7 linked regions of the Homo sapiens genome follow. The protein of the gene in region 5 purifies or fractionates together with the protein of the main gene of each other region. This does not show direct contact. Each region holds a gene or a part of one and is shown on either strand. Other genes may lie near its edges. The genes, in order: FBXO11, ITPR3, ATP13A3, DRAM2, SLC35F1, MSMO1 and LAPTM4A.

The links.
Region 1: the proteins of SLC35F1 (region 5) and FBXO11 purify together in Homo sapiens (affinity purification with mass spectrometry; one large-scale study listed by BioGRID and IntAct). This does not show direct contact.
Region 2: the proteins of SLC35F1 (region 5) and ITPR3 purify together in Homo sapiens (affinity purification with mass spectrometry; one large-scale study listed by BioGRID and IntAct). This does not show direct contact.
Region 3: the proteins of SLC35F1 (region 5) and ATP13A3 purify together in Homo sapiens (affinity purification with mass spectrometry; one large-scale study listed by BioGRID and IntAct). This does not show direct contact.
Region 4: the proteins of SLC35F1 (region 5) and DRAM2 purify together in Homo sapiens (affinity purification with mass spectrometry; one large-scale study listed by BioGRID and IntAct). This does not show direct contact.
Region 6: the proteins of SLC35F1 (region 5) and MSMO1 purify together in Homo sapiens (affinity purification with mass spectrometry; one large-scale study listed by BioGRID and IntAct). This does not show direct contact.
Region 7: the proteins of SLC35F1 (region 5) and LAPTM4A purify together in Homo sapiens (affinity purification with mass spectrometry; one large-scale study listed by BioGRID and IntAct). This does not show direct contact.

What each region holds. Positions count from the first base shown.
Region 1 is NC_000002.12:47,836,475-47,841,174, forward strand, and holds part of FBXO11 (F-box only protein 11), read right to left. Parts: intron 3,296-4,700; coding exon 3,168-3,295; intron 3,027-3,167; coding exon 2,945-3,026; intron 2,530-2,944; coding exon 2,385-2,529; intron 1-2,384. UniProt on the Homo sapiens protein: Substrate recognition component of a SCF (SKP1-CUL1-F-box protein) E3 ubiquitin-protein ligase complex which mediates the ubiquitination and subsequent proteasomal degradation of target proteins, such as DTL/CDT2, BCL6, SNAI1 and PRDM1/BLIMP1.
Region 2 is NC_000006.12:33,624,322-33,627,909, reverse strand, and holds part of ITPR3 (inositol 1,4,5-trisphosphate-gated calcium channel ITPR3), read right to left. Parts: exon of another isoform or gene 3,520-3,588; intron 1-3,519.
Region 3 is NC_000003.12:194,480,035-194,484,734, forward strand, and holds part of ATP13A3 (polyamine-transporting ATPase 13A3), read right to left. Parts: intron 3,065-4,700; exon of another isoform or gene 2,948-3,064; intron 1-2,947. UniProt on the Homo sapiens protein: ATP-driven pump involved in endocytosis-dependent polyamine transport. Uses ATP as an energy source to transfer polyamine precursor putrescine from the endosomal compartment to the cytosol.
Region 4 is NC_000001.11:111,116,663-111,119,878, forward strand, and holds the end of DRAM2 (DNA damage-regulated autophagy modulator protein 2), read right to left. Parts: coding exon 3,215-3,216; intron 2,236-3,214; coding exon 2,143-2,235; intron 1,606-2,142; coding exon 1,498-1,605; 3' UTR 501-1,497; downstream 1-500. UniProt on the Homo sapiens protein: Plays a role in the initiation of autophagy. In the retina, might be involved in the process of photoreceptor cells renewal and recycling to preserve visual function. Induces apoptotic cell death when coexpressed with DRAM1.
Region 5 is NC_000006.12:117,909,611-117,914,310, reverse strand, and holds part of SLC35F1 (solute carrier family 35 member F1), read right to left. Parts: intron 1-4,700. UniProt on the Homo sapiens protein: Putative solute transporter.
Region 6 is NC_000004.12:165,337,098-165,341,295, reverse strand, and holds part of MSMO1 (methylsterol monooxygenase 1), read right to left. Parts: intron 3,508-4,198; coding exon 3,359-3,507; intron 2,645-3,358; coding exon 2,518-2,644; intron 1,076-2,517; coding exon 921-1,075; intron 1-920. UniProt on the Homo sapiens protein: Catalyzes the three-step monooxygenation required for the demethylation of 4,4-dimethyl and 4alpha-methylsterols, which can be subsequently metabolized to cholesterol.
Region 7 is NC_000002.12:20,037,536-20,042,235, forward strand, and holds part of LAPTM4A (lysosomal-associated transmembrane protein 4A), read right to left. Parts: intron 3,477-4,700; coding exon 3,356-3,476; intron 80-3,355; coding exon 3-79; intron 1-2. UniProt on the Homo sapiens protein: May function in the transport of nucleosides and/or nucleoside derivatives between the cytosol and the lumen of an intracellular membrane-bound compartment.

The sequences.
Region 1 (4,700 bases), on a different chromosome or scaffold from region 5:
CCTCCCACCTCAGCCTCCCAAGTAGCTGGAACTACAGGCACATGTTACCCAGGCTGGTCTCGAACTCTGGAGCTCAAGTGATTTACCCACCTCAGCCTCCCTAAGTGCTGGGATTACAGGCGTGAGCCACCATGCCTGGCCGAAAATTAGTTTTCCTGCAAAAATTTTCACAATGTAACTGCGTATGAAAATTTGTCCACACAGAACAACAAAAAGTTTCAATTTCCTTACAAACTGTTTACTCAGGAAGGGGAAAAAAAGTTATCCTTACTGTAAAAACATCATGATTATCACTTAAAAAGATAATTTTCTTTCTTTTTCTTTTTGAGACAGAGTCTCACTCCCGTTGCCCACACTGGAGTGCAGAGGCGTGATCATGGCTCATTGCAGCCTTAACCTCCCAGGTTCAAGTGATCCTCTTGTCTTATTTTTTGATTTTTTTTTGTAGAAATGAGGTCCCAGTATGTTGCCCAGGCTGGTCTCAAACTCCTGGGCTCAAGTAATCTGCCCACTTCAGCCTCCCAAAGTGCTGGGATTATAGGCGTGAGCCACTTCGCCTAGCCTAAAAAGATAATTTTCAGTAAAAATACTTTGAACTTAATTTGTCCTATATCTTCAGTCCATTTATATCCTATCAAGCACAATGAAATCTTCAAACTGGAGTAATGGCTAACTATTATCATTTCTGGTACAGTGAGCAATGCTGTTTTGTTCTGCTGCTCTTCATTCTCATTTCTCCTTTGTAATTTTTCTCTTAAATGTAAGGTGTGGGCCGGGCACAGTGGCCCATGCCTGTAATCCCAGCACTTTGGGAGGCCCAGGCAGGAGGATCACCTGAGGTCAGGAGTTCAAGACCAGCCTAGCCAACATGGTGAAACCCTGTCTCTACTAAAAATACAAAAAATAGCTGGGCATGGTGGGAGGTGCCTGTAATCCCAGCTACTCAGGAGGCTGAGGCAGGAGAATTGCTTGAACCCGGGAGGCAGAGGTTGCAGTGAGTCAAGATTGTGCCACTGCACTCTAGCCTGGGCAACAAGAACGAAACTCCGTCAAAAACAACAACAAAAACATATATATATATGGTGCACCTTTTGTGCATCATAAAAGTAATACATATAACCGTTGTAAAACAAAGAAGTGTAAAGAACTATAGTTTCAATATATTAACTATTAACAGTCTGCCATATTTGCTTCCACTCATTTTATCTACAGATCATTTATTATAGTTGTGATTATATAGCATATACAATTTTGTACTCTGTTCTTTTCTTTAAAAAACAGGGTCTCCGTCTGCCGCCCAGGCTGCAGTGCAGTGGCACGATCACGGCTTTCTGCAGCCTTGACTTCCTGGGCTCAAATGATCCTCCTGCCTCAGCCTCCGGAGTAGCTGGGACCACAGGCAGGAGCCACCACACCTGGCCTCTTTTCACTTTTTATAACAGCATTTTTTTCATCTTATTAAAAACCTGGGCTGGGTGCAATGGCTCATGCCTATAATCCCAGCACTTTGGGCGGCCGAGGTAGAAGGATCACTTGACCCCAGGAGTTCAAGATCAGACTGAGTAACAGAGTGAGACCCTTTGTCTCAAAAAAAAAAAAAAAAAAAAAATTAGCTGGGCATGGTGACACATGCCTGTGGTGCCAGCTACTCAGGAGGCTGAGGTGGGAGAATGGCTTGAGCCCAGAGGGTTGAGGCTGCAGTGAGCTAGGAGCGTGACACTGCACTCCAGCCTGGGTGACAGAGCAAGACCCTGTCTCTCAAAAAACAAATGAAAATCTCTTTGTAAAAATTACTATTAGTGGTTATATCACAACTCTCCAAGTACACATTACACAGTTTATGTAGTTCATTCCCTTAATTCTGGATATTTAGATTATTTATAATTTTTCTCATTATTAACTAGGCTGTTACGAAAAATCTGTACATAAAGCAAAAAAAACTTTTCAGAAGTAGAATTACTGGGTCAAAGGGCATGACCCAGTAATTACTGGGTCAAAGGGCATGAATTATTTAAAGATTCATGAATACAACTGTTTTCCAAAAGTGATATATAAAACCTACATTCTAATCTATCAGATTTAAAATTCATTAGCTATTTTAAATTACACTGTTATGTTTCTAAAAAGCTACTAAAAGAAAAACATTTCCCATAATCAATCAGTTGCTATTAACTGATAAACAGCAGATAAAAGACTTCATTTACTGATTTATAAATACCACCTGGACTGACAGCCCCCATTTGTAACTTGGAATTGATAAGCATTTTAATTTTGTTCCAACTAATTGTAACTACCAACTCACCGCACCGACTTTCCTACCATGTTTAGCATTTTGGGCAACAAATAACATATCTCAAGTTAATAAGGAATAGGTTTTTACTTACCACAAAATTGGATCATTAGCAAGTTCACTGAAGCGTTTACATACACAAGCTGCTCTACAAAGATCCTGTTCCAGCAAGTAAGAGAAGATTTTTAGAACCACTTCATCTGGCAGTTTCTCCTGAAGATACTGTTCAGCAGGTGCTGCTATAAAGAGATTAACATATAAACTATCATTCGAGCAATAACTTTCTCATTATTTAAAGAACACAGTTTTCATTTTATCTAATGAATAGCTTTTTTTTTTTGGATAATGGTCATTTTATAAGCATGTGGGTTTCATGGGTAACACATATTTATCTCTATCCTGAACTAACAAAAGTACTCCTTCTTTTAGGTATTATGTGCCATCTCAGAAATGGTTAAAATAAATACATAAAAAGCATTTTTATACAACAATAAAAGTCAGAGGGAGAGGTCAGGGTTCTAAAGTTTATTCTGTAATAATCACTTTCTGAATCCCAAAGGTAATACTCGAATACACTTAATTTTCATTTTTTGGTATCAAGCAAAATTAAAAAAAATTATTTTACCCTATTTGTTACTTTCCCACAGGAAATACCTGATAGATCTTGTGATTTTCCAGACACTCTTGCACGTTTTGCACGATGACCAAAGTTTTCTGTAGTTGAAGTTGAGGCGCCCTTCAAAAACAAAACAGAAACTAGTAAAGCAAATATTCTTATCATCCATAATCATTACTTCTAAAAAAGGATGACATTCCCTTTTTTGTTTCTTGAAAATTCTTTCATTACAAAAAGAAAAGCAACTACAGTTAAAGTTACCTCCATACTGTTCTTTGTGGGACACGCTGTTCTTTTCGGCAAAAGAGTTTTTCTACGAAGTTGGTATGGACTATTTTGTGCACCAGGACCTGATTCTTCTGCAACCATATCTGCAGGCACATCATCATCTGTTATAAACAAAAGCAATAAGAAAAATTATACCCTTTTTAAAAAAAGTTCTATGGATACAGAAAACTTTCTTAAAACTTCAAATTCGGGAGGGAGCAGATGTAAGTTTTATATGAAATTCCAACCAACTGGATAGCTATATGAAAGAAATGTTAGATTTCTATAAAATGTGGAAGATTTTTTTTTTTTTTGAGACAGAGTCTCGCTCTGTCGCCCAGGCTGGAGTGCAGTGGCGCAATCTCGGCTCACTGCAAGCTCCGCCTCCTGGGTTCACGCCTTTCTCCTGCCTCAGCCTCCCGAGTAGCTGGGACTACAGGCGCCCGCCACCACGCCCAGCTAATTTTTTGTATTTTTAGTAAAGATGGGGTTTCATCGTGGTAGCCAGGATGGTCTTGATCTCCTGACCTCGTGATCCACTCACCTCGGCCTCCCAAAGTGCTGGGATTACAGGCGTGAGCCACCACGCCCAGCCGTGGAAGACTTTTTTTTAAAAAAAGGTGAGGAGGATATCCACTTGCTGAGAGGAGTGGGAAGGGAACTGGTACTACATGGTTAGAGACCATATATGGTGAAGGCAGCTTGGCAAGGAGTGTGTCTATGAAGAGGAACGGCTCAATATAGTGCATGAGATACCAGGTAGGTTAAAAAGGGTGTCAGAGGGTAGTCTGGTGTATGAACATCTTTTTTTTTTTTTTTTGGAGATAGGGTCTCATTCTGTCACCCAGGCTGGAGTGCAGTGGCCCGATCACAGCTCACTGCAGCCTCAACCTCTTGGCCTCAAGCAATCCTCCTGCCTCAGTATCCCAAGCAGCTGGGGCTACAGGCATGCACCACCACCCAGCTAACTAAAAAACAATTTTTTTTGGTGAGATGGGGTCTCACTATATTGCCCAGGCTGGTCTCAGACTCCTGGGTTCTAGCAATCCTCCCACCTTGGCCTCCAAAGTGCTTTCAACAGAGCACGGCTGCAGTGAGCTATGATCACACATCTGCACTCCAGCCTGGGTGACAGAGCAAGACCCTGTCTCAAAATCAGTCAGTCAATCCATCCATCTATGAGTTCATAATAATACTTTAAAAATTAAAAAAAAAAAAAGATTATTTGAAAGATGCTAGTGGAAACCAACCCATCATGTTGAAAACTTGTAAATAACACAGTGGCTCAAGCCTGTAATCCCAGCACTTTGGGAGGCCAAGGTGGGCGGATCACGAGGTCAGGAGATCGAGACCATCCTGGAAAACACAGTGAAACCCCATCTCTACTAAAACTACAAAAAATTAGCCTGGTGTGGTAGCGGGCGCCCGTAGTCCCAGCTACTCAGGAGGCTGAGGCAGGAGAATGGTGTGAACCCGGGAGGCAGAGCTTGCAGTGAGCCGAGATCATGCCACTGCACTCCAGCCTGG
Region 2 (3,588 bases), about 84 Mb from region 5:
CTGGTTCTAGGCTGAGCCAACCCCGCGCCACCCCCTCTCCACTTCATCCCTTCTCCATCACATCCTCGCACTGCCTGGGAAGTGCCTAGTACCTAACCTTGAGGGCAGAGGCTGGTCTTACTCCCCACATGCTAGTGCAACACTCACACATGACATGAATCATGTCTGACCCTCTGTGGCACCAAGTTCTGTTCCTATACCCCTCCACCACCACAGAAACACAAAAAGTTAGACAGCCTAAGAGTTAAAGGTGTACCTTGTCTTTGATCTCCATTTCTGGGAACGTATTACCTGAGAGGATAACTATAACTAGACAAGTGTTCAGGCATGCATGCACTAGGATGTTCAGGGCAAATTGTTCTTAACAGCAAAAATTTACAAAGAGCCTGAATGTTGAATACTAGAGTTGCTTAAATAAATTAAGGTACAGCATACCATGGCTGTGCAGCCATAACAATGGTGTGTTGGCATGGGAAAATACAGCTCACTATATATATGCAAAAAAGGACAGGGTACAAAGCCATACGTGCAGTTTGATATTGTTTGTAAATGTTCATTTATGAATATAAAAGGCTAGAAGGTCATAGGGAATGTTCATGTAAGCCATAGTGGTATTACAGATCATTTTTTTGAGTTTTTCACATTTTCTCCATGGAATGTATATTTTTTTTTAATCTGAAAAAATATATATATTTTCAAAAAATGAGTTGCATGGATTAGGCTAAGACCAAGAATCTGCCTTGAGGTACAGAACAGAAGTCTAACATCTTCTTCCAATGAAATCACAATTAAATGAAAGCCAAGCCGGGTACAGTGGCTCATGCCTGTAATCCCAGCACTTTGGGAAGCCGAGGCAGGCAGATCACCTGAGGTCAGCAGTTCAAGACCAGCTTGACCAACATGGAGAAACCCCATCTCTACTAAAAATACAAAAAAATTAGCCGGGCGTGGTGGCACATGCCTGTAATCCCAGCTACTCGGGAGGCTGAGGCAGGAGAATCGCTTGAACCTGGGAGGCGAAGGTTGTGGTGAGCTGAGATTGTGCCATTGTACTCCAGCCTGGAAAACAAGAGCAAAACTCTCTCCAAAAAAATAAAAGAAAGAAAGCCAAGACAGGTCTGAAATCCACCCAGGGAATGCTATCAGCGAGGGAAAGGCAGTCCCCTGCTCCTGGAATTACATGTGTCTCAGACTTAAGGCTCAAAGGGCCCCACTGCACAGAACGGAACAAGCTGGACCTGTGCCTTGGGTACCACTGATTCTGCAGTGCCTAAAACAGTGCCTTGCCTAGCACATGGTAGATGCCTAATAAATGTTTGTTGAATGACATTATGAAGTCTGATGAGGGCAAAGAGATGGGCCTTCTGGGCTGAGGGGCAGGTAGACCTAGCAGGCAGGCTTCCTCACAGCCTGTCAGCCTGGGAGGGCCCCCAGATCAGGGATCCCGGCCCCAGGTACTCATTAAAACCACCTGGAGAACTTTTTAAAAATCTAACACCCAGACCTTAGCCCTAGAGATGGTGATTCAGTTGGTCTGGCATGGGACTTGGGAGCTGAAATTTTTTTTTTAATCCCCAGGTGATTCTCAGGTACAGCCAGAGCACCATAGAGGATAATGCAGGCTGACGGAAACTCACTCTGAGAAGGCAGGGCCTTGTTCAAAGCATCCAGCAACGGCCAGGCACGGCGGCTCATGCCTGTAATCCCAGCACTTTGGGAGGCAGAGGAGGGAGGATCACTTGAGCCCAGGAGTTTTAGATTAGCTTGGGCAGCAAGGGGAGACCCCATCTCTATAAAAAATACAAAAACTAGCCAGATGCGGTAGCACACGCCTGTAGTCCCAGCTACTCGGGCGGCTGAGTTGTAAGGATTGCTTGAGCCTGGGAGATTAAGGCTGCAGTGAACCCAGATCACACTACTGCATTCCAGCCTGGGTGACAAAGACCCCATTTCAAACAAAACAAAACAGAAACCACCCAACAAGTTGGTGATGGAACATGAGACAGACACCCTTCCTGAGAGCTATGCCTCTGAGGTTTCCGACCTAGGGATCCTGAGCCTGGAGACCTGGGGCTTCGTCTATATTCACCCCCATACTTCTTGGGTCCTGACCTCCAGGGAAGCAGGTCAGGCTGGCAGGTAGACAGAGAATCCCATGGGTAAGAGGCAGCATCTCCTACTCACTATGATTACCCAGCCCTGGGTGATCCAGGTCCAGAGGCCCTGAGAGCTCCAAATAGGCTCCAAGGCTGAGCCATGGGTGGGCAGAGGCACTTTGACAAATGTTGAAAGCTCAGCTCCAAGACCCAGTTCACCTGCACTCCCCCAGTTTACTTTCTGTGGGTCTGGGGCTACCTCTCTGGGTACTCATAAGAGATCTTCGCCAGGCACAGTGGCTCGCGGCTGTAATCCCAACACTTTGGGAGGCCGAGGCAGGCGGATCATCTGAGGTCGGGAGTTTGAGACCAGCCTGACCAACATGGAGAAACCCAGTCTCTACTAAAAATACAAAATTAGCTGGGTGTGGAGGCACATGCCTGTAATCCCAGCTACTCGGGAGGCTGAGGCAGAAGAATCGCTTGAACCCAGGAGGCTGAGGTTGCAGTGAACTAAGATCGCCCCATTGTACTCCAGCCTGGGCAACAAGAGTGAAACTCTGTCTCAAAAAAAAAAAAAGAGATCTTCAAGAGATGACTTGAGATCCTGATGGGTCCACCCTGTGTACCCAAGGCCAGTTCTCCCTAGCCACTGGCCTGAGGCCACATTCAATCCTCCACTTTTTGTTGGCCCTAATCAGCTACTCCATCCCTGGCCTCTGCTGCTCCCACCTAGGGTAAGGGATAAAGCAGTGGCATTGGCCTTGCTCTCCTGCCAAGAACAGGCGTGGGCCTGCTTTCCCTTGCTGGCCGGCTGGCAGTCTCAACCGCTCCTGGATCCACTACCCAGATCCCTCCCATCCTTCCCACCTAGAGTTAATGTACAATCTTCACTAGGACCTCTAATTCTCCAGGAGGCTCTAATTGGCCTCGTCCACTTTGCACTGAAGAGCTCTGGCCAGAATCTGAATGCTGCCTCTGCCTCCCTCCCCAACTAATGCCCCCTTCCCATCTCCCAGGTGACCTGGCCCATCTGCCCACCAAGGCCACCCCTGCCTTCAACACATTCATTTTTATCCAGCCCTTACTGGGTACCTCCTGGGGCCCACACACTGGGCACTGGGTTAGCCCAGGAATTCAGTCAAATCAGCCTATGGGTTCACAGACATGGGCACCAACAGCCTCGGGAAAAGCAGAGGGGACCAGAGTTCAGAAAGGAGGCAGAAGGATTCTGAGGAGGATGGGGCAGAGAGAAAATCACTCAGAGCAACGCTCCTCACACTTTAATGCACCAGTCCCCTGGGGATCTTAATAAAATGCAGATTCTCATTCAGTAGGACGGGCACGGGGTCTGAGATTCTGCATTTCTGACAAACTTCCTGGTGACGCTGAAGCTGCTGGACTGATTACTTACAGCACTTACAAATCATTCCTTCTTTGACTCTTAACTTCCAAGGAAGCAGGAAGCACAGCTCCCTTAATCACCACCAAG
Region 3 (4,700 bases), on a different chromosome or scaffold from region 5:
AACAAAAAAACAAAGAGCAATCATCAATCACACCCCACACACACATCTGACTTGTTTTGAATATCTTCAATGTTACTAAGTTAACAAATAATAAGTTACCCTTCACTCAGACTCTTATCCTTACAATTCTCTAAGGTACCCTTTATCACCTCTATCTGGCAAATAAAAAAGCTCTCAGAGGTTCAGTGACTTACTTAACCCAGACTACAAGACTGGTATGTGACAGAGCTGTAATTCAAAATCACTATGGCTCTGAAGCCCACATTTTTATCCAATACACCATGCCCTCTCCCAGGACATAAGACTGTTAAGTTTTTAGCCACCATCATGTTTTTACATACTCATGTTTTCTTACTGTGCTATCCCCAGAGTAATACTTAAGTTTAGATACTTTAAATTTCATGGAATCCATTAATAATTTACATCGCTCTTTTAAAACAATGCAGATCTTGCTAGCAGTAAGGAATAAATTTATTCTTTAAAAAAACAAAACAAAAACACTCAAAGTAGTTGAGTATCCCCTCAGAATGACAGACAGTACCAATAATCTCCTAATATTCTCAACTTTATTACCTAGCCTTTTAATTATACTAGATCTTTTTGTGGCATAACCTTACGGAGATAGCAGATGTTCATAAATACCTAAGTTATTTCTCCATTATTCACACTGTGGAGTCACATCATATATGCACTTAATTAAAACCAATTCAACTACTTACACTCTGGGGGGAAGCAACAGAGAAAAATAATTTGAATAATGATGATAGTATGCCTTCCTTTACATCCCTGTCCCAGAGTGAGCATGAAATGAAGACTATAAATCCGCTATGCTCAGTCAATCTAAGACCCATTCACCTGTCAAAACGGTCTCACACAGCTGGTGAGGATTCCAGCTCACCAAAAAAGGGACCTCTCTAAAACTACAGGAAAAACTGGACACTAGAATTGAAAGACAGAATGTCAGTTTCCAACCAGTTTTCAAACTGGTGCCTTTTTAAAAGACTTTTTCCAAGGGTAATTTTGACTACACAGGATTTTTATCTGAGAATTTAGGCCCAAAGGCCCCATGAGCAGTGATTGCACTTTATTCAGCTCTTTAGATCAATCAGAAAAAAATCAGGACCCAAAACACTTGTCTTTTATATCAAAATAAATAACTAAAATATATTTCATCCTATTTCACAAATGGAAAAAAAAAAAAACAGAGCAACAGGGATGCTATGAAGAAACCACCCTTAGACACATATGTGGGAGCAATTCCATGACTCATTTTAAACAAACTAAAAATAGTTTGTTTCAAGAAGTCTGTCAAGCAAGCAAAGGCAACCCTTAAAAGTTGGCTCTCACTGGAAAAAAAAAATGCAAAAGTTTTGAGATGTGCCATTACTACAGAGTACAAAATTAAAGCAAGGGTGAAAGGAACACCCAAGCTAGAGAAAGGATCTGGGGTTAGACCATAAAGGATCCTTTATGCTGTCACTTACTTCACTTTCCTCTTCTCTAAAAAGGCACTAATCTAAATAATCCATGATCTCTCCGCATTATTTTCCAGTCTCACACCTCTTTATTTCAATGTTCAACTCCTTTGTGAAAAAAAAATAAGAAAAACTCACTGAGCTAGAACCATCTTTCACCTTACCACCCAACATCAGTTACAAGTATTTTTACTTCAAACTTGAGAAAGATTCTGTAGACATCAGCAATTTCCAGACCACATAATTAGGAAATTCTACTTTACATACTTAAGTGACTTTTTCTGGAAATTTAATTTCTTATCTAACTAGTCTCTGAGTGTCAATTGATCATTTAAAACCAAGATCCACAGGGAGTAAGTGTAAGAATCAACAAAAAAGACAAAATTCTGATTAACAGATTAATTTTGCGGTCTTGACGTTTACTATTCGAGTTAATGTTTTACCATCTCAGACTCTAGCAAAGGTTCCAATATGACCCTGTGGGTCTAAGATGTTAACAGATATGGTATTGGCATAGTTCCCTCTAGAGAATCATTTTATGGAAACTTTTCAGCAATCACCATCCTCAAACAACCTTCCTCAGTGTCAGACACTTATTTGGACAGTTCTCTCCTTTATTCCGTTTTTCTCCCTTCTTACTGATTACCATAAAGTCATTTTTTAAACTATCATAACAGTGATCATTTTTTCCAATTACCATTTACTCATGTCATCTCATTTTACCTCTATTTTTAACCTGATTAATACAAATTATTTTTGGTTGTTTTAAGACAAAGTCTTGCTTTGTCACTCAGGCTGGTCTCAAACTCCTGGCCTCAAGCCATCCTCCTGCCTTGGCCTCCCAAAGCACTGGGATTTCAAGCATGAGTCACTGTGCATAACCTACTAACACAAATCGTTTTAACTCCTTTTATAATCACTAGTTATCTAGTGATAACTGATTAACTGTGGACCTTCTTCTACCTTACAAATATCTACTTTTCTCCAGATTAATTTGAGCCCAGAACTTTTTCATTTTTTTAAACCTAAATCTTAATTAAAATTATGTGCCAGAAATCTGAGCCTCTCTTACTTCTCTACTCTCAAAATATGATGTTCAACAAAACTCAAACGAGAACCTAACAATTTCCTTGCTTCTTGCATGCTATTTGAACTTAAGTGGTTAATTAGAACATGGTTTTGGCTGGGCAAGGTGGCTCATGTCTGTAATTCCTACACTTTGGGAGGCTGAGGCAGGAGGATCACTTGAGGCCAGGAGTTCTGAGACAAGCCTGGGCAACAAACCGAGATACTCATCTCTACAAAAAAATTTTAAAGGCCGGGCGTGGTGGCTCACGCCTGTAATCCCAGCAGTCTGGAAGGCCGAGGCAGGCGGATCACAAGGTCAGGAGTTCAAGATCAGACTGGTCAACATGGTGAAACCCAGTCTCTACTAAAGATACAAAAAATTAGCCAGGCATGGTGGTGGGCACCTGTAATCCCAGCTACTCGGAAAGCTGAGGCAGGAGAATCGCTTGAACCCAGGAGGCGGAAGTTGCAGTGAGCGGAGATCGCGCCTCTGCACTCCAGCCAGGATGACAGTACAAGACTCCGTCTCAAAAAAAAAAAAAAAATTTTTTTTTAAATTAGCCAGACATGATGGCACACACCCGTTGTCCCAACTACCCTTGTTGCTGAGGCAGGAAGGTCGCCTGAGCCCAGGAACTCAAGGCTGCAGTGAGCCATGATCGTGCCACTACACTCTAGCCTGAGTGAGAGAGCGAGACTCTTTCTCTGGGGGGAAAAAAAAAGAAAAAAGGACGGGGTGCAGTGATAAATGCCTGTAACCCTAACACTTTGGGAGGCCAAGGCAGGCAGACTGCTTCAGTTCAGGAGTTTGAGACCAGCCTGGGCAACACGGTGAAAACCCACCTCTACAAAAAAAAAAAAAACTAGCTGGGTGTGATGGTGCACACCTGTGGTCCCAGCTACTCTGGAAGCTGAGGTGGGAGGACTGCTTGAGCCCAGAAGGTCAAGGCTGCAGTGAGCCATGACAGAGCCACTGCACTCCAGCCTGGGAGACAGAGCAAGACCCTATCTCAAAAAAACTCAACATGGTTTTGACGACTACAGATTTACTCTCTCCATAGGCCAATTAGCTTCATTTTCACAAAAACTATGTTCCAAAACCAAGGCTAAATCCCATCAGCTACCTCTTGGATCCAGATGAGATATGGCATATTCAGAATACATTCAGAGGTAACACCAAGAAGAAATTTAATTTCTAATTTCTTCTGGCTACTCCAGGCACACTGCCTATCGAGCAGCCCTGTTCTGCAAGAAGCAGTATTAAAAAATGTTTTTAAAACTTTAAAAAATAAGAAATGTGATTCTAAGGAGGGAGAGAGAAGGGAGAAAAGGATGAGTACAACATATCTAAGAGTTAAACTGAGCTATATTTGAATGGATGATAAATGGAATAGGAGTTGGCAGCTTATCACCTATCAAAGAAAACAGTCAAAACAGTTCACAGTTGTGTGCTAAAAGAAGGTGATCTAGTGTGTGACACCTATTAAGATGACATATCTGATTTATCACCAGAATCTGAGGTTCAGAGATGTTATGTTGCCTAGTCACATACAACTAACCTTATAAACCCAGAGACAGAAACCTCTGTGTTAAGCACATTAACACAGAGCTAGGTTTCTGTCTGTCTTCAAAGTCGCTTATACTGTAAGCTCCTTAACTTCTTTAATTTTTTTTTTAACAAAGAAGAATATTGTTACCTGAAAGTGTTGAGGATTAGTTGAGACCATATGTAAAGAAAGGAGCACTTTTCCTGGCACATAATGGTTTCTTTCCTTCTTCCATTCCATATATTGAATCAAACTATGCTTGTATAACGTGGTGGTTTTGTAACTACTGTGAATATGAGGTTTTAGAATATGAATATGCTTTATTCCTAAGATAAATAGTAATCTTAGGACATAGGCACTATATCATATTACTATGGATATACAACCTACTCAATGGTCAAACTCAGTGAGAATAAGCAGTGATGGGGACGCCCTATGGAACTTTATCTTTATTCTGTCTTTTTTCTCAGTCTCAGTGATGTTGGAAATAAGAACTTTATACTTGTGAATGACAACAAAGTGGTTTATAATCTCGAAAATCTTGAAGACAGAAATAGGATTTCAAAATGAGCTCGATAATGTGGTTTATCCAAAGCGGATTCTGTGTGTT
Region 4 (3,216 bases), on a different chromosome or scaffold from region 5:
TTTTATGGTTTGTATCCAAATTATTTCTAGCAATGTCAGCATTTAGTCAATCAATGCTTATGGAAATGTCTCCCAGGTTTATTGCTGTTTAATATAGGCATAGTATTTTATTCCCTTTCTGTCTTATTAGTCCAGAAGACTTCAGAAATATTATTTACTGATTCTTGTATCTAGCAACTAATTTATAATTGAGGTCTCCATCACATAAGCATTATTCCTTGAATTGCTCCAACTGACAGTTTAAATGTTTTCTCCCCACCTTTTCTTCTGGCCAGGGAACCATCTCTTCTAAAAAGATAAAAACCTGATTAATCTTCTTCAAAGATTATTCTGCAAACCAGTTCATCACTGGGCACTTTCCAAATGAGCATTTTTTTCTTTTTAATTTCAGCAGGGATCTGTAAACTATTCTTTACCTGTACATACAGAGATCCAAGGAGAAACAATCCAATCATTTGCATACCCAGAAAAAATGAGAACACTGTTTTTGTAGATGCATGTATCACACTTATTTTGCATGTAGTTTAATTGGATTGCCAATTTTGTTCTTTAGAATTTGGGCTCTACAAAGGTTACATCCTATTAAAAAGGCTCAATATTTACCTGTTCAAGACTACTTTTACATGTAATTATAACTTGCCATAAATGAAAATCTAAGAAGCTCTTGAGTATGGTTATGACTTTTATTAATCATATCTGCTGTTATTCCCAAACTTCTCAATGTTACATGAATACTAACCCTTGTTTTATATAAAATATGACTAAAGTAAATTTACCTACAGGTGCCTCTCTCCTTCATTGGTGATTAAAATTTCACGCCAGAGACTAAACTTCATGAAACTACTGCAAGCATGTGTATGATAGACCAATTAGCTTAGTATCTGGCATTGTGGCCAGAAAAAAAAAAATCGTTACCTACAAAATCTCTTGGGCAACACTTAAGCCATGGAAGAGCCCACATGAATCCAGGTCTACTTTCCTTTACAGGTAGATTCCAGAACAACAACAAAAAATGTAAGACTACAAGAAATGATTTAATATGATAAAACTCCCATTTCAAAACCCAGTTCTAAAGGATTTACTGACTAATGCTGATTATTTAGTCATGGAAAATGTCTCTCATAAAAGTGCTCCTAACAAAACATGATCTACAATAATTTATAAAATGTGAAGGGTTGGGATGTGCAGACTGATTGGTGCACGTCAGGTTGTTTCTCTTAAATAAGGTATAAAAAACTATGATATCATAGTCTTTTGACTTTATTTTCTGAGATAAAAAAGTATAGGCATAGGTGTTTTTAATAGTCTTCTTGATGATATCCTTTAGAATAATCTATCAAATGGCTTCTTTCATGTTTCCTGATTATCAGCATTCATCAGTGTTACTGTCAGCCTTGATTAAGTGGTTGAAAATTTCAGAGAAGAATAAGCAACTTCTGTGAACCTTTCCCCAATCCCTGAGAATCATAATCATTACAGAAATATTTTATCCTTTCATCAAATATCTCTGGAAAGTAGCCGTGTTCGTTCATTGTTAATAGGGCAAGGTGCAGTGTCATAGAGGGTTAATCCATGTAAATTGGCTTCCACCCGTAAAGAAATTTTCTGGAACAGAAAAGAAAATTATATATAGAAGTTTGCTCCTTAAAGAGAGATCACTCCTTCAATATGTTCTATAGGCTACCTTGTGATTATGAATGTAAATCAATTCTAATGGTAGTGAGACAGCTGTTTTACTGTCAAAGGTATCCTCTTTGTACCAATTAAAATCTGGAAAAACCAAGCTTCTCAATTCATAAAGTTCCCTGTTTTTCTTTGGTTTCTACTAAGAATCAGTAAAACTAAATGTTGAGAATGACCTATGTAAAAGTACACAGAATCGATAACAAATTCTATGTAAGAATTTCTGAAATTTATTTTATAGCCCCATTTTCAAGGCTAAATCTTGCTAGCAATACACTACTTCTTTAAACACAGAAACAATTCACCTGAAAAGTTACATCACTTGTTTATGATACCAAATCACAAACAGTTAATTTTCAAAAAGGCGGGAGAGTTGCCTATGGAAAGTTCTCTTAGTCTACCTTCCTGGACTAAGAGAAGGAAGTCTGACTGAATAAATCTAATATTGTGCCTTCTTACCTGAAAATCACGAATGTAAGTCAGGAAAAAACCAAAGAAGGAAAATGACATAGACCATTCTGCTGCAGTAGTGATCATGTGAAGCACATAACCCTGAGTGATGGGAAAAAAAGAATAGTTTTGTGAAATTTCATTTAAACGATCTATATACTATGTTTCAAATAAAAAACACACAATTCTTATAAAATAATGGAGCTTCTGAAAATCAACCCTTGACTTACCAGGCATATAATATCTCTAGAATTAAAGAGCCAGCATTAGGAAATCCTCCTAAATGACACTCTATTTGTTTCACTGGGAGCGAATAAAATTTCCAATTAAATAGCTAAGATAGAACAGGATCATTTTTACTCTACAATCGAGAAATTACTATTGCCTTACCCAAAGCCATAAGATTCATAATATGCAACTAAGAAAAGTTTAACAATGCTCAGAATAAACTTAGTAAGTGCTGTGTTTACGATATTAAATAATATATGGGTTACAATTGGGAAAATCTAGTAAATTATTTCATTCATTCATTTTCACAAACATGCCCAATTTGGGGCTAATTCTTATATAAAACACCACCAAGTGGTTTGTGAAAACAGATGAACTCATTTTATTCTTTAGTATATGTTCCTCTTCCTCTATTCTCAGAGTCCCAGATGTTATATCTACATTCAGATATCCACTATATTGAATCCTAAATGCAGAGTCCATAATCAATTTCCAGATAACAAAAAGTGGGAGAAGATGTCTTTTCAATTCAGAAAACAAGTATTCAAAACATAAATGATCTCGGTTGGCTATATTATATACTATACCCACATTTAGGGGAGTCAATTTCTCAGAAAACTCTTCTGCCATCGCAATGCTCTTCATATTTTGACAATATCTACAGATCACAGGTGACAGGAGAATATGGAAGGTTCTACATAAACCCTACCATATCAAGAAAATAATTTTAATACAGAACTGATTATTCTACCAGAAGACTTTCATTGTTACTGATGAAATGAAAAACATATCAAGATCAATCAAAATAACCATCTTTAATATAAAACTAAGTTTATAGACTGTAAGTTCTTACTT
Region 5 (4,700 bases):
GCTTATAATCTCGGAACTTGCAAAACTATATTTAAGGGCTTTTTTTTTTTTAATCCTCAGAGAGTCACATAGTAAATATTCTTCAGACAAAGTTTAGAATTTAAATTAATAGAAACTCTCTCTATATATATACACACACATATACACGTGTGTGTATATATGTGGATAGACAGATAGATAGATAGATAGATAGATAGATAGATAGATAGATAGATAGATAGATAGGATTCTTTTGTTTTTGTTTTTGGGGGGATTTTTTTGAGATGGAGTTTCACTCTGTTGCCCAGGCTGGAATGCAGTGGCGTGATCTTGGCTCACTGCAACATCTGCCTCCTGGGTGCAAGTGGTTCTCGTGCCTCAGCCTCCTGAGTAGCTGGGACTATAAGCGCATACCACCACGCCCAGATAATTTTTGTATTTTTAGTAGAGATGGGGTTTCGCCATGTTGGCCAGGTTGGTCTCACACTCCTGACCTCAGATGACCCTCCCACCTTGGCCTCCCAAATGCTGGGATTACAGTTGTGAGCCACCGCCCCTGGCTGAAACAATATTTTTAAAACTTAAATTATAATATAATTCAAAAAATTATACTCATGTTGCCACTAACTAACTGAGTTGCCACTAACATTTTTTCTAAGAAAATACTTCCTAAAGAATATTTATTGTTATTGTTTTCTTTGACATTTCTTGTGAAATTCCTTCTTAACTATTGTACATTCAAGGATTCCCTGTATAATTCCAAAGTGTCAGAACAAGGTTAATACGCATTGCATATTGAACAGCTCATTTACATTATTCCAATATCTAGACACTGGGAAGCATTTATTTAGGCATTATGTGTAACAATTCAGATTATGAATTACAACGTTCATTCTAAATAGTGATACACATGTCAAGTTTCCCAGTTAGGTTTTGAGGTTTTGGCCCAAGAATAATGTTTCGTCACATGTGTGTATTCCATAAGAAGGCTCAGCATACAGTTACTGCTTAAGAATAAATGAATATAGACCTGTATATGTTCATGTTACCATTAAGAAACATGCCCAAAATTCATAGGTTTTTTCCATACATCTACTGAAGTTTGTCTTCCTAAGCATACTTCTTGAGAAGCATAATCAAGAATTAATGTGTCTGAACAATGTACAGGGCATGCTCATTGGCCTGAACGCAAATGAACAAGCAAGCTAAACTAAAATCTGGTGGTGGTACTTTCACATGCTCCATATTATTTTTATGAGAAATGGCAACTACATAATAAAACATCTCTTGCATTAAGTAACTTTAGAGCTATATGAGCGATATGAGCAGCAGCTCAATTGCCTATACCTTCTACATCTATAGATGTGTACAGTGAAAACAGACATCAGTTAAGATGCCCCTAAGACACTGAAGGATTTTGAGAAAGTAAAAGTTCAAAGAAAATCACACAAAGACAAGTATATTTTAATACACGTTAATTACCTGAAAACACATCATCTTTATCTGAGGTAATCCAAATATCCCTTTAATGTGAACATTAGTTTCTCCAAGCACTGGGCATAAATACAAGTATACTGGTATAATCATTTATTTTTATAATTTTGTCCTTTTAGTTAAAAACAAATGCACCCTTCAGACATCTTTTCTTTACTACTGATCTTAGAAAAGTCTGTTTTTAATCACACCACCCAGTTCCACTTGGAATATTTTATATTAATCAACCTCATTACTAGCTGATCTTCCTCTTTTCATTTTGACATGTTTTAGACGGAGCAGCTTGAGGAAGATTCTCACCATTAATTTCCTAACAAAAGCCTTCTCACTTGATCAGAAAGGATCATCTAAATTATATGTTTCCACCAACTGTATGGAATACCTAGAGTTCAGTCATATCCATTGGTTCATGATGTTCTGTCCACCTTATTTAATGACTCAGAAAGGCTATGTACACATATTGTCCCATTTTACATGGTAAGTTTCCTACTTGGACATTGATTTTATGTAGGCTTGCTTCAAACTCTTCTATGTATATCCTTAACGATCTTTGGTTTATATTCAAAAAGGTTTCAGAAATTTGAAAATAAATCTAAATATAAGTTGGAAATCAGTTCATTCTAAATCAAATGAATGGATGAGTCAGAATCAGTAGTGATTCCATTCTAATGATTAAACATTCCCGCCATAAGACTCAAAGAGGCAGAAACCCCTTTATAATTTGAGACAACCCACTGTATGTCTTAATGGGAAGAAAGTGTATCAAAACAAGAAATTCACAGATATTTCTGTTAACAACTGAAAATAATACTCATGTGGGAAAAGATAAAAGCACACATATGCAAAACACAAAACAAGCTATCACTCATTTCTCAAAAACATTTCATTAAGAAATCATTTAGAGTACAAAATCTTCAGGCACTTTAATATGTAGGTCAGTAGCTACTCCTGTATGTGTCTAAGAAATCTACCTGATCAGCAGTTTCTTTGAGAGGGTCATCAACTGTTGCCCTTGAAGTATTTTCTTTTCGTCATTTTCTGATTGCCTGTGGCAGGGTAATATATACTATACCATGCTAAGAAATAAGGGAAGGCCAGGCACAGTGGCTCATGTCTGCAATTGCAGCACTTTGGAAGGCCAAGGTGGGAGGGTGACTTGAGGCCTGGAGTTTGAGGCCAGCCTGGGAAACAGAACGAGACCTCGATTCTACTAAAAATTTAAAAATTTTTTAAAAATAGCCAGGCATGGTGGTGTGCACCTGTATTCCCAGCTACTTGGGAGGCTGAGGTGGGAGAATCACTTGAGCCCAGGAAGTCAAGGCTGCAATAAGTTGTGATCATGCCACTGCACTCCAGCCTGGGCAACAGACCAAGATCCTGCCAGAAGGATGGAAGGAAGGAAGGAAGGAAGGGAGGGAGGGAGGGAGGGAGGGAGGGGAGGGGAGGGGAGGGGAGGGAAATGTGAAGAAGACTTTGCCGTATTTTTTCCTTGTTTGAATCAATATATTGATTGGTTCACAATTTTGAATATTAAAGGAGTAGTAATTATTCCAGCATTTAAATTGTCATGTTTCTTGCATCCTTTTGCCAAAACAATTTTGAGTATACCAGGGGAAAAAATGTGATGTCCCATTAATTATTTTAAAAAATTATCTAGTGCCTCCTCTTTCACCAAGTCTTGAATATAATTACATTCTAATCTAACTGTTTCACAGAAAGGGAGTAGTCAACCAATGAAATACCCCAATTGTTGTGTACAAAATGCAGCAATCCAACTCGACAAGCCTTTAGAGTAAGGGGAGAGGCTATGGAGTATACTATGGAAATAAAATGATGCTGAATAATGTAAGGCAGATTTTATTAAGATAACACTATATTTCATTCTAAGCTTCTTGAGAGCAAGAAGTACCTTTAATTAATTATTGATGAGCAATTCTCTCTTTAACTCTCCCTGGGTAGACAGGATATAGATAGCGTATGTGTTTGCAGTTCTTCCTCTGGGTTGTCAGATAGCTGTTCCTGTAGACTGTGACCAATGGCAGGCAATTCGCCAGGCTTGGCTTGCTCACAGTCTAATATTTCTCGTCCCATTGCACCACTCTGTGTCTCAGCATTACCCCTTTGGCCCAGTGGGATGCTAGGAGCTGACAGTGGTACAGCCCCCATTTCAGTCACTGAAGAGACTAGCCCTACCAGCCCACAGCAATAGAATGCTGCTAACCATATATCTGCATGTCAAAAGTTGGAGGGATATTTTTTATATTGGCTCCCAGCTTCCCGATTTGGAACCACTTTCTGCTAGGAGCTAAGTTGCTGCATGCCAAGGGTAGAGGAAAGAAGACAAATGAAGACAATGAGTGGACAGGGCAATGTGGGTGAAGTATTCAGGAAGGAGGAAGAGGAAAAGAAGAAAGCAAAAAAGGAGAAAGTAAGCAGATGGTGAGTTCTTAGAAAATTGACAAAGATGCTTATGATTAGGCCCCAATGGGCCTGCCTGATATCCATTACTGACTAGTCCAACACATCATGAGGGTTCAAACCAGAGGGGAGCCACATCCAAGCACTCTGCAGAATCTCAAAAATTCACTCTCCCCCATACTCTCACTTTTACCTAGAGCCTAATCACTCTATAGCCACTATTAAGGCTCTCATTGACATAATTATGGCACAAAAGCCAAGCCCATCAGCATGCTAAATAAATTATGCCATTGAGATTTTAAAACTTGCTCAGATTTTTCAGTCTCCTTACTAAAAATGTTCTTTCTTGAAACAAAGAGTTTCTTCTTATCCTTTAAGGATAAGGAAAAGCCAGTTACTCAATACAAAATATTATATTGAAAATTTTGAATAACTTTGAAAGACAAATAAATAAATAATTGTTTTAGCTTAAGTCTAAAGGCTACAAACCTAGGGTTCCATTCACGGTTGTATACCTGCGATGAAATGCCGTCAACCCAACATAAGTATAAGTTCCTCCTCTATACACTGGGACTAGTACAACTCATGTCACAGATCGTTTCATTAGAAACACAAGGTTCTACCCATAACGTAGCATGACTTCAACTTCATTTGCCTATGTTTACCCCATAGGCTTACCTTAGAAAAAAAATGAGTTGAATACATTAATTCATGTAGATCTTTATACTTTTCCAAGTGTTTTCTTCAGCATTATCTAATTCTCAAAATCATGGTAGGGAAGTAAAACAAGTACTGTATTATTAAACATA
Region 6 (4,198 bases), on a different chromosome or scaffold from region 5:
CATTTACTTTTTTAGGCAATGACAAGTTGGAATCAAATGTACCACAATTAATCAAAATACCAGTGTACTTTTCTATAGTTGGCAGAAGACAAATGGCTTCAAAAAAGAGTCCCATTTAAAGTATGCTCCTTTATTTCCAACTACATATCTACAATCAGACATCCAGTTATACTTATTTGAATCACTCTAACCCTCTCTTCCTTTGAGGAGCTTAGAGGAAGGAAGGCAGAAAGAAACAATGGATAGAAAAAAAAAAGAAAGAAATGTCAATTACAATTTTTCTACAGAAGAATATTCTCTGCCTAGGACTAGAAGCATTAATTTTGCTACTTTAGCACTTTAAAAATAATTCTTAGAATTTGATATTCTGCATTCATGAGTACAGAAGTATGTCCCAAGTCAAAATGCAATGAACATATAATTAAAAAATAATGAACAATTAGGATAAGCATTTAAGAAGGCATTCAATATAAATAATTTACCACAAAATGTCTTCCAATCAACAGAAAGGATGCATTTGAAATATGTATGTGTTACAAGTAGTAGTTTCATCTTGCAAGTGCCTTTATCAGTGCTGAACAGTAGAGATTAGAAAGTCTTATTCAAGGAAGGCTGAATGCTTTGATATTTTTTTCAAATATGAGTTAAGTTTAGGTTTATTACAGAAGGATAAGGAAATTGCTGGTCCTGAATATATACTTGCCCTAATAACACATTATCACTATAAAAATTATAACAGCATAGGCTAGAATGTAAAAACATCTATTATTTAAACTTTTATCCAACAGTTATGTTTTCTTAATATAACATTAAGAAGATTAACTTCTCCTATTAGTCTCCTTAGAAATATGATAATCTTATGGCCATGAAAATAAATATATTTCATTATGCTTTATACCTGAACAGAAATTAATACTCACCTATGGACATCAATAGTTTCTAATAAACGAATGGTCACCCATGCCCAAAGAAGAATTACATGATCACACAAAAGCACGATTCCAATGAAAAATCCAGTTCCAAGAATTAGAGTCTCCAAAGGATGTGCATATTCAGCTTCCATTCCAAATGGAGCCTAAGACAAACAGATAAGAAATTCTTAATTTCTTAGCTATTGTGATGGTCAATTTTATGTGTCAACTTGGCTAGGCTATGATATCCAACTGTTTGATTAAATACCAGTCTAGATGTTGTTGTGAAGGTATTTTTTAGATGTTGTTAACATTTAAATCAGTAGACTGAGTAAAGGTGATTACCCTTCATAATGAGGGTGGGCTTCATCCAATCATTTGAAGGCCTTCAGGATAAAAGGCTGAGGTTTCCTGAAGAAGGATTCTCGAGACTGCAACACTGAAACCCTGCCTGAGTTTCCAACTTGCTGCTCCATGGAATTTGGACCCAAGGCTGCAACAATTCTTACCTGGATTTCTAGTCTGTAGCCTGCTTTACAGATTTCAGACTTGACAGCCGCACACTTGCATGAGCTGATTCCTTAAAATAAATCTCTCTCTGCATATATATACCCCAATGATTCTGCTTCACTGGAGACTTCACTAATATATATATCCTATTTATGCATAAAGTTTTACAAAGTTATATTGATTCTATATGTAGTGATGATTTATCTAGTCATACACTTATAAATAATACTAGCAATTCTCAATAAAAATACCTTACTCCACATCAAAAGTCTAGGGATATAAAATCTTGCTGTCTTTGATGGTTTAAGATAAAGGCATTAAATAATTGACTTGAACTCTAATTTTGACTTAAGTATTTATATTTGTTCTTCTAATAAAGAGAGGCTTGATTTGGCACACCATGTAATCACGGTCAATGCAAAACATACTCACATAACCAGTTGACAAAGCTACATCAAAGCAATTCTAATTGGCCGGGCATGGTGGCTCACGCCTGTAATCCCAGCACTTTGCGAGTCCAAGGCGGGTGGATCACCTGAGGTCAGGAGTTCGAGACCAGCCTGACCAACATAGTGAAATCCTGTCTCTACTAAAAATACAAAATTAGCCACGCGTGGTGACGCATGCCTGTAATCCCAGCTACCTGAAAGGCTGAGGCAGGAGAATTGCTTGAACCCAGGAGGTGAAGGTTGCAGTGAGCTGAGATCATGCCATTGCAGTCCAGCCTGGGCAACAAGAGCAAAACTCTATCTCAAAAAAAAAAAAAAAAAAAAAAAAAGCAGTGCTCATAGAAGTTACTGTTTTTGTGGGAGTTAGCAATGTGAGGATCTAGCTGTGCCAGTGTAGCACTGTCCACAAGGATGGAAGTCCGAACTTTCATATAATATTTTTCTTTCAGATCTCAATTTACCATGAAATTTAAATAATGAAAACAATGTGTAGAAATGGCTTGTTTGTATGTGTGTGTATTGTTCTTAATAATCATGCCAAAGGAAAAGAAAATAAAAACGTCACCAACAATTTTAGAAAAATGCTCAGGCAATTAAAATAGACATTTTGCCTCTAACAGAAAGAATTAAATATAACTCTCACATACCTGAAACTCATGATGAACTTTATGAATATACTTGTATATTCTTTTGTGGTGTAAGAGTCTATGCAGAAAATAGTGCCAAGTATCTTCAATGACTGCACAACCAAAGCATCTTGCCAAAAGAAAATACCTTTAAGATAAAAATGTTGTAATGTGTAAGAAATAATTTTTACTTAAACTATCCAGACTTTTAGTTGGGATCACTGCTTGAGACATTACATAAAACCACCCACCCACTTACCAGGTTGACCTAATTGGATATATTCATAAATAAATTCTCAAAACCACCAGATACAGCTACATAACTTGATATAAGGTTAAAGAGACTGCCCATTAGACCAATTTCATTTCATTACAATGTTCACACAACTTGCCTCATGACACTTTTCTCAAGAGATATCCGTTAAGTGACGCATGAGTATATATATGTGTGTGTATATATATATGTGTGTATATATATATATATATATATATACACATACATATTTTTGTTCATGTAAACACAATTTCTATAAACCTCATAAATGATTCTCATATATTTCATTCATTTTAAAATTAAAATGTAATATATTTTTGTCAACATAAGCACTTATACATGTATATAAACATACAAAAGACGTTATGGAAACTTCTGATACTAGAAGCTCACCTTCCAATAAAATATTTAAAAGATGTAAAAATGGAAACATTTTAAGATTTTACTGTGGTTTACTTTTCTACTATTTATTTACTTCCAAAGTTTAGAACAAACATTAACTAAAATTAAGAAAACGGGTAAACATTAAGTATAACTTAACTGAATAAGCCACAATTGGGTGTAAAAGCCAAATTTTTATCTACGTACCATCTTGGCATTCTTTCCCAATCATAAGGAATATTGAAATACTCTGTAAAATAATAGGTTCCACAAATCAAAGGCAGCTGGATACAGAAGTGATTAAAGAGAAGAACTTTGAAACACTTCCATTGGTTTTCCCATGTCTCTGGCTTATCCTACGAAGAAAAATCACAATATCTAATATTAGTCTCTGCTATCAGAGTTTAACTTGACCTAATTTGTTCTCTGTTTATGTTGGACCTTAATTCTACGTCAGTTATGTTAACTTTATATAACTAAGACTCAGGAATCTTTGCCTTCTAAATTCTTGACAACTACTATCACTACTTCAGGTGAAGAAACTGTTAACAGATGCGCCTAGCCATGATGATCTCAAACAAACTAAGAAACACTATGGAATGAATAATTCTCCAGTCTTTGCTGCCACAGATCATTCACTTCACTTCTTTTACCAGAAGTTTCAGAGAAGAAGAAATATAATATGCTAAGATTACTGTTGGGTGTCCACAATTGAAGAAGTTGTATACGAAGCATTGGAAGCCTTTTACACAGTAAGTCGATGCTTCCAGGCACTCAGTGGTATTCATTCCAACAAATAAATGCACTTTTGTTCAAATCCAATGACAGAATTATAAACTCTCTGAGTTGAGAAGTACACAGATATGTCCTGATTATGGAGTTCACAGATTCAAGTCAAAATGAGAAAAGTTAGATCAACATGGGATGTTCGTTAAGACCTCATCAGGATACCCATTTGCTTAGCAAGTCATTATAAAAAACAAAGCAAAACAAAACAAACACTAACTAAATGTATTCAATTTATAGGACTGCACTTAAAAAAGTGCT
Region 7 (4,700 bases), on a different chromosome or scaffold from region 5:
ACAGAAATTGCTCCATAAACCAGCATTGAACTGATTATAAACATAAGAACAGAGACGGCAAAAAGAACACAGGCATTATCTAAGAAAACAAAAACAAAAATCTAATTAAGCTACTTACACAACAAAAAGAACAAAACTTCACTTAAAGCTAGCTTTAAAATATTAAATTTAAATATTTTCAAAATTGGCTATAAAAAGATCTAAGGCCAAGAGGGTAAAAAAAAAAAAAAAAAATCAAAGTCTCAGCATGAAGTAAGGAACCTTGAGACATTCACACAAAGCACTTATTTGTTAAATCGCTCCAACGACTCACTGACATGGGTGTAGGATGGCACATGAACCACATTCTCTGCTAGAGAAACAGGTCCCTGTGCCCTTATGAGCCCAGGAATCTGAAGATGTGCAAACAGATCATTATAATCCAATGTGTCAAGTGCTACAACAGAGGCAGAAACAATTTGCTTTGCCTGAAGCATCAGGAAAAAATATGAAGAAATGACACAAGATGGGTCTTATGAGTAGGGTTTAGCTGGAAGGAATGGCTGGCAATTGCTTAAAAGACAAGTGTATTAAACTCAGAATGCTACATACATTACCCTTTGCTCTAGATAAATATAACCTGAAATTCAAATTTCGCCATTAACCTCACTTCCCCACCCAACCTCCCAAACACCAAAATTCATTGCTTCCTGCACCCTGGTATCTATGTTAACACACACTACTTTCTTCTTCGTTTCTCAACTCTTCCTCAGGTTGTTCCAACTCTCCATTAATCCATGTTCACTAATTTTTTCACAAAACAGCCAAGTAATCTCAAGCAATTCTAAACCGTGCCTGACTTACTGAATTTCTTAGCACAAATCTGTAGTTGATTCTGTGACTCTGGACAGTTTTTTCTTTCTTTTCCTGAGACAGAGTCTTGCTCTGTCGCCCAGGCTAGAGTGCAGTGGCGCGATCTCGGCTCACTGCAACCTCAACCTCCCAGGTTCATGTGATTCTCTTGCCTCAGCCTCCCAAGTAGCTGGAATTATAGGCAAGCACCACCACATCCAGCTAATTTCTGTATTTCTAGTAGAGACGAGGTTTCACCATGTTGGCCAGGCTGGTCTAAACTCCCAACATCAGGTGATCCGTCTGGGCAGAGATTAAGAAACTGGGGGGGATGGGCACGGCAACCCACACCTGTAATCTCAGTACTCTGAGAGACTAAGGTGGGAAAATTACTTGAGGCCAGGAGTTCAAGACCAACCTGGGCAATATAGCAAGACCCTGTATGCACAAAAGATGTTTTAAAAATGAAAAAAGAAAAAAAATACTGAGGGCACTAATAATGATGAATGACTAGAACAACTGCTGAATATTCCCTATTGGGTAAATGTATATACAACTTTTTTTTTTTCTTTGAGACAATCTCACTGTCACCCAGGCTGGAGTGCAGTGGCACAATCTCAGCTCACTGCAACCTCTGCCTCCCAGGTTCATGAGATTCTTTTGCCTCAGCCTCCAGAGTAGCTAGGATTGCAGGCCTGCGCCACCAAGCCCAGCTAATTTTTGTATTTTTAATAGAGACAGGATTTCACCATGTTAGCCAGGCTAGTCTCAAACTCCTGACCTCAAGTGATTCACCTGCCTCGGCCTCCCAAAGTGATGGGATTACAGGCATGAGCCACCATGCACAGCATGTATATATAATTTATCACTGGGCAGTAAAACCTCATCAATATTTGGCACTAAACTAGGAATAGTCCTCTTTACTTTTTTCTTAGAGGATACAGGATTGATAAATGTTAAGAATTTAAAGGACTTCCCTGCTACAACATGCAAACTTCCACTTAGAAGAATTCAGGTAAAAACAAAATATGAAATTAAACAGGTATTATCAAACTTGAAAGCAAAATTTGTAATTCAAATAATCGGCTTTCAAGAGTCTGCTATGGGCTGGGCACAGTGGCTCATGCCTGTAATCTCAGCACTTTGGGAGGCTGAAGTGGGAGGGTCCCTTGAAGCCGGGAGCTCAAGACCAGCCTGGTAAAGACAGGGAGACCCGATCTCCACAAAAATTTAGCTACTCAGGCAGCTGAGGTGGGAGGATCACTTGAGCTCAGGAATTCTGGGTTACAGTGAGCTATTACTGTACCACTGCACTCCAGTTGGGACAACAAAGTAAGACCTTTTCTCTAAAAAACTTTTTTTAAACAAATAAATAATATAAATGTGATTTTAAAAATGAAGGGCGCTGGCTGGGCGCTGTGGCACGCCTGTAATCCCAGCACTTTGGGAGGCTGAGGCGGGTGGATCACCTAAGGTCGGGAGTTCGAGACCAACCTGACCAACATGGAGTAACTCTAAAAATACAAAAAATTAGCCGGGTGTGGTGGTGTGTGCCTGTAATCCCAGCTACTCAGGAGGCTGAGGCAGGAGAATCGCTTGAACCCAGGAGGCAGAGGTTGCCCTGAGCCGAGATCGCACCACTGCACTCCAGCCTGGGCAACAAGCGCAAAACTCTGTCTCAAAAAAAAAGAAAGGCATTTATCCCATTCATAAGGGTAGAGCCCTCATGGCCTAATCACCACCCAAGGGTCCTACCTCTTAATATCATCACCTTGGAGGTTAAGCTCCAGCATGTGAATTTTGGAGGGACACATATATTGTAACCATAGCAACTTCTCCTTTCTACTAGTAGCTACATTAAAAAAAAAGTCTTATGAAGCCTGCATGCTTATTTTGATTTCAAGGTACATTTTACACATTTCTCAAAAACTTAATAGTCCATTACATTTTCTGGCTAGAAATGCTCTATTGTAATCCTCACTGAATCTCTCTGAAAAACCCATCAAAATACTTTCCTGCCTCAGCAAGAATGACTTAAATATAATTTAACTTGTTACCCTTATTATGTAACCATTTTAACTTTCTGAAATGTAACTTAAGCATAATCTAATCAATCCCCTAAATAACCAGTGTGTGTGGAGACAGACAGACATGGGCCAACAACATTTTGGTCAACAATGGACTGCATATATCATGAGGGTTCCATAACACTGTAATAGTGTATTTACAGTATTACTATATTTTTCCATCTTTAGATACACACCTATTTGCCACTGTATGATAACTGCCTACAGTATTCGGTACAGTAACCTGCTGTACAGGTTTTAGCCTAGGAGTCTCTACCACATCGCCTAGGTGTATAGTAGGCTACGCTATCTAGGTTTGTGTAAGTACACCCTATGATGTTCACACAACAATATCACCCAGTGACATTTCTCAGAATGTGTCCCCATCATTAAACAACACAGGACTGTATATAAAAATTAGCAGGGGAGATTTTTTTGTTTTTCTATTAAACACATACCAGCCATTCTCTCAGACGAATAGTAATTACCGATGACTTCATACTGAATGTTGACAGCTGGCATGGAGTTTGGATGAGTCACTTCCACAGTCAGCAAAATTGCCATCAATAGGTTTACTACCTGGAAAAGATAACATTCTATCAGTTACATTAATTACCATCACGACGCAATCTTAGCACAATCTCTAGATGTCCTCTCATATTTAAGATTGTCTTACTTGAAGTAACAAAGATATAAAATAGTGGGAGACTACCTGTGAGATAAAACAATACGCAATTACCACTATGAGAATAATTTAAAAATAAATATTTTATAAAGTATAAGTAATATTAACCATTTGAGAGATAAGATGCTTAACCAATACACCAGAAAAAAATTAAAACTAAAGAATCATTACAAATGGTTCATGTTCGAAGCTACCTATTTATTCATATACCAATCTCAGAATTTCTGGATTTGAAGAAGTTACTGTTCATCTGTTATATTTATTCATCAGATGCCCGAAACCCCTCCACAGCATCTCTCATCAGGTGACAGAGAACTCACTATTTCCTCTAGAGCTAGACTCAAATGCTTAAGAGACTTACCAAGATACTGAAAGTCACTTATCTACTAGTCTTACTTTTGTGTGTGTGTGTGTATGTGTATGTGTGCGTGTGTGTGATATGGAGTCTCACTCTATTGCCCAGGGTGGAGTGCAGTGGTGCAATCTCAGCTCACTGAAGCCTCCCCTTCCTAGGCTCATGTGATCCTCCCACCTCAGCCACCTGGTAGCTGGGATTACAGGTGCCCACGACCATACGCGGGTGATTTTTGTATTTTTAGTAGAGACGGGGTTTCACTATGTTGGCCAGGCTGGTCTCTAATTCCTGACCTCAAGTGATACACCCAGCCCTAGCCTCCCAAAGTGTTGGTATTACAGGCGTGAGCCACCACGCCCGGCCTTAAATCTACCTTTTGAGATAATGTGCTCTCCCTTCTAAATAAGTGCTCCAATACCTGAAAACAGCCTCCAAATACTGTGTTCTCTAGAATAGACATGCAGATCTTTAAGCCATTCCTCTGACTAGCATGTTTCCTAGCTACCTATTTCCCTTTTGTCTTCCTCTTTACACATGCTCCAGTTTGATGGACATATATTAAAATGAGGTAAAGTCACCCTGGTCAGAACATAATGGGATCTCAGTTCTCATATTCTGGCTAACGAATTTCAATTAATGCAACCTGAAGTTGTACTGAGGTTTTTTGTTTTTGTTAGAAACAAGGTCTCACCATATTGCCTAGGCTGGTCTTGAACTCTTGGCCTCAAGTGATCCTCCTGCTTTAGCCTCCCAACATGCTGTG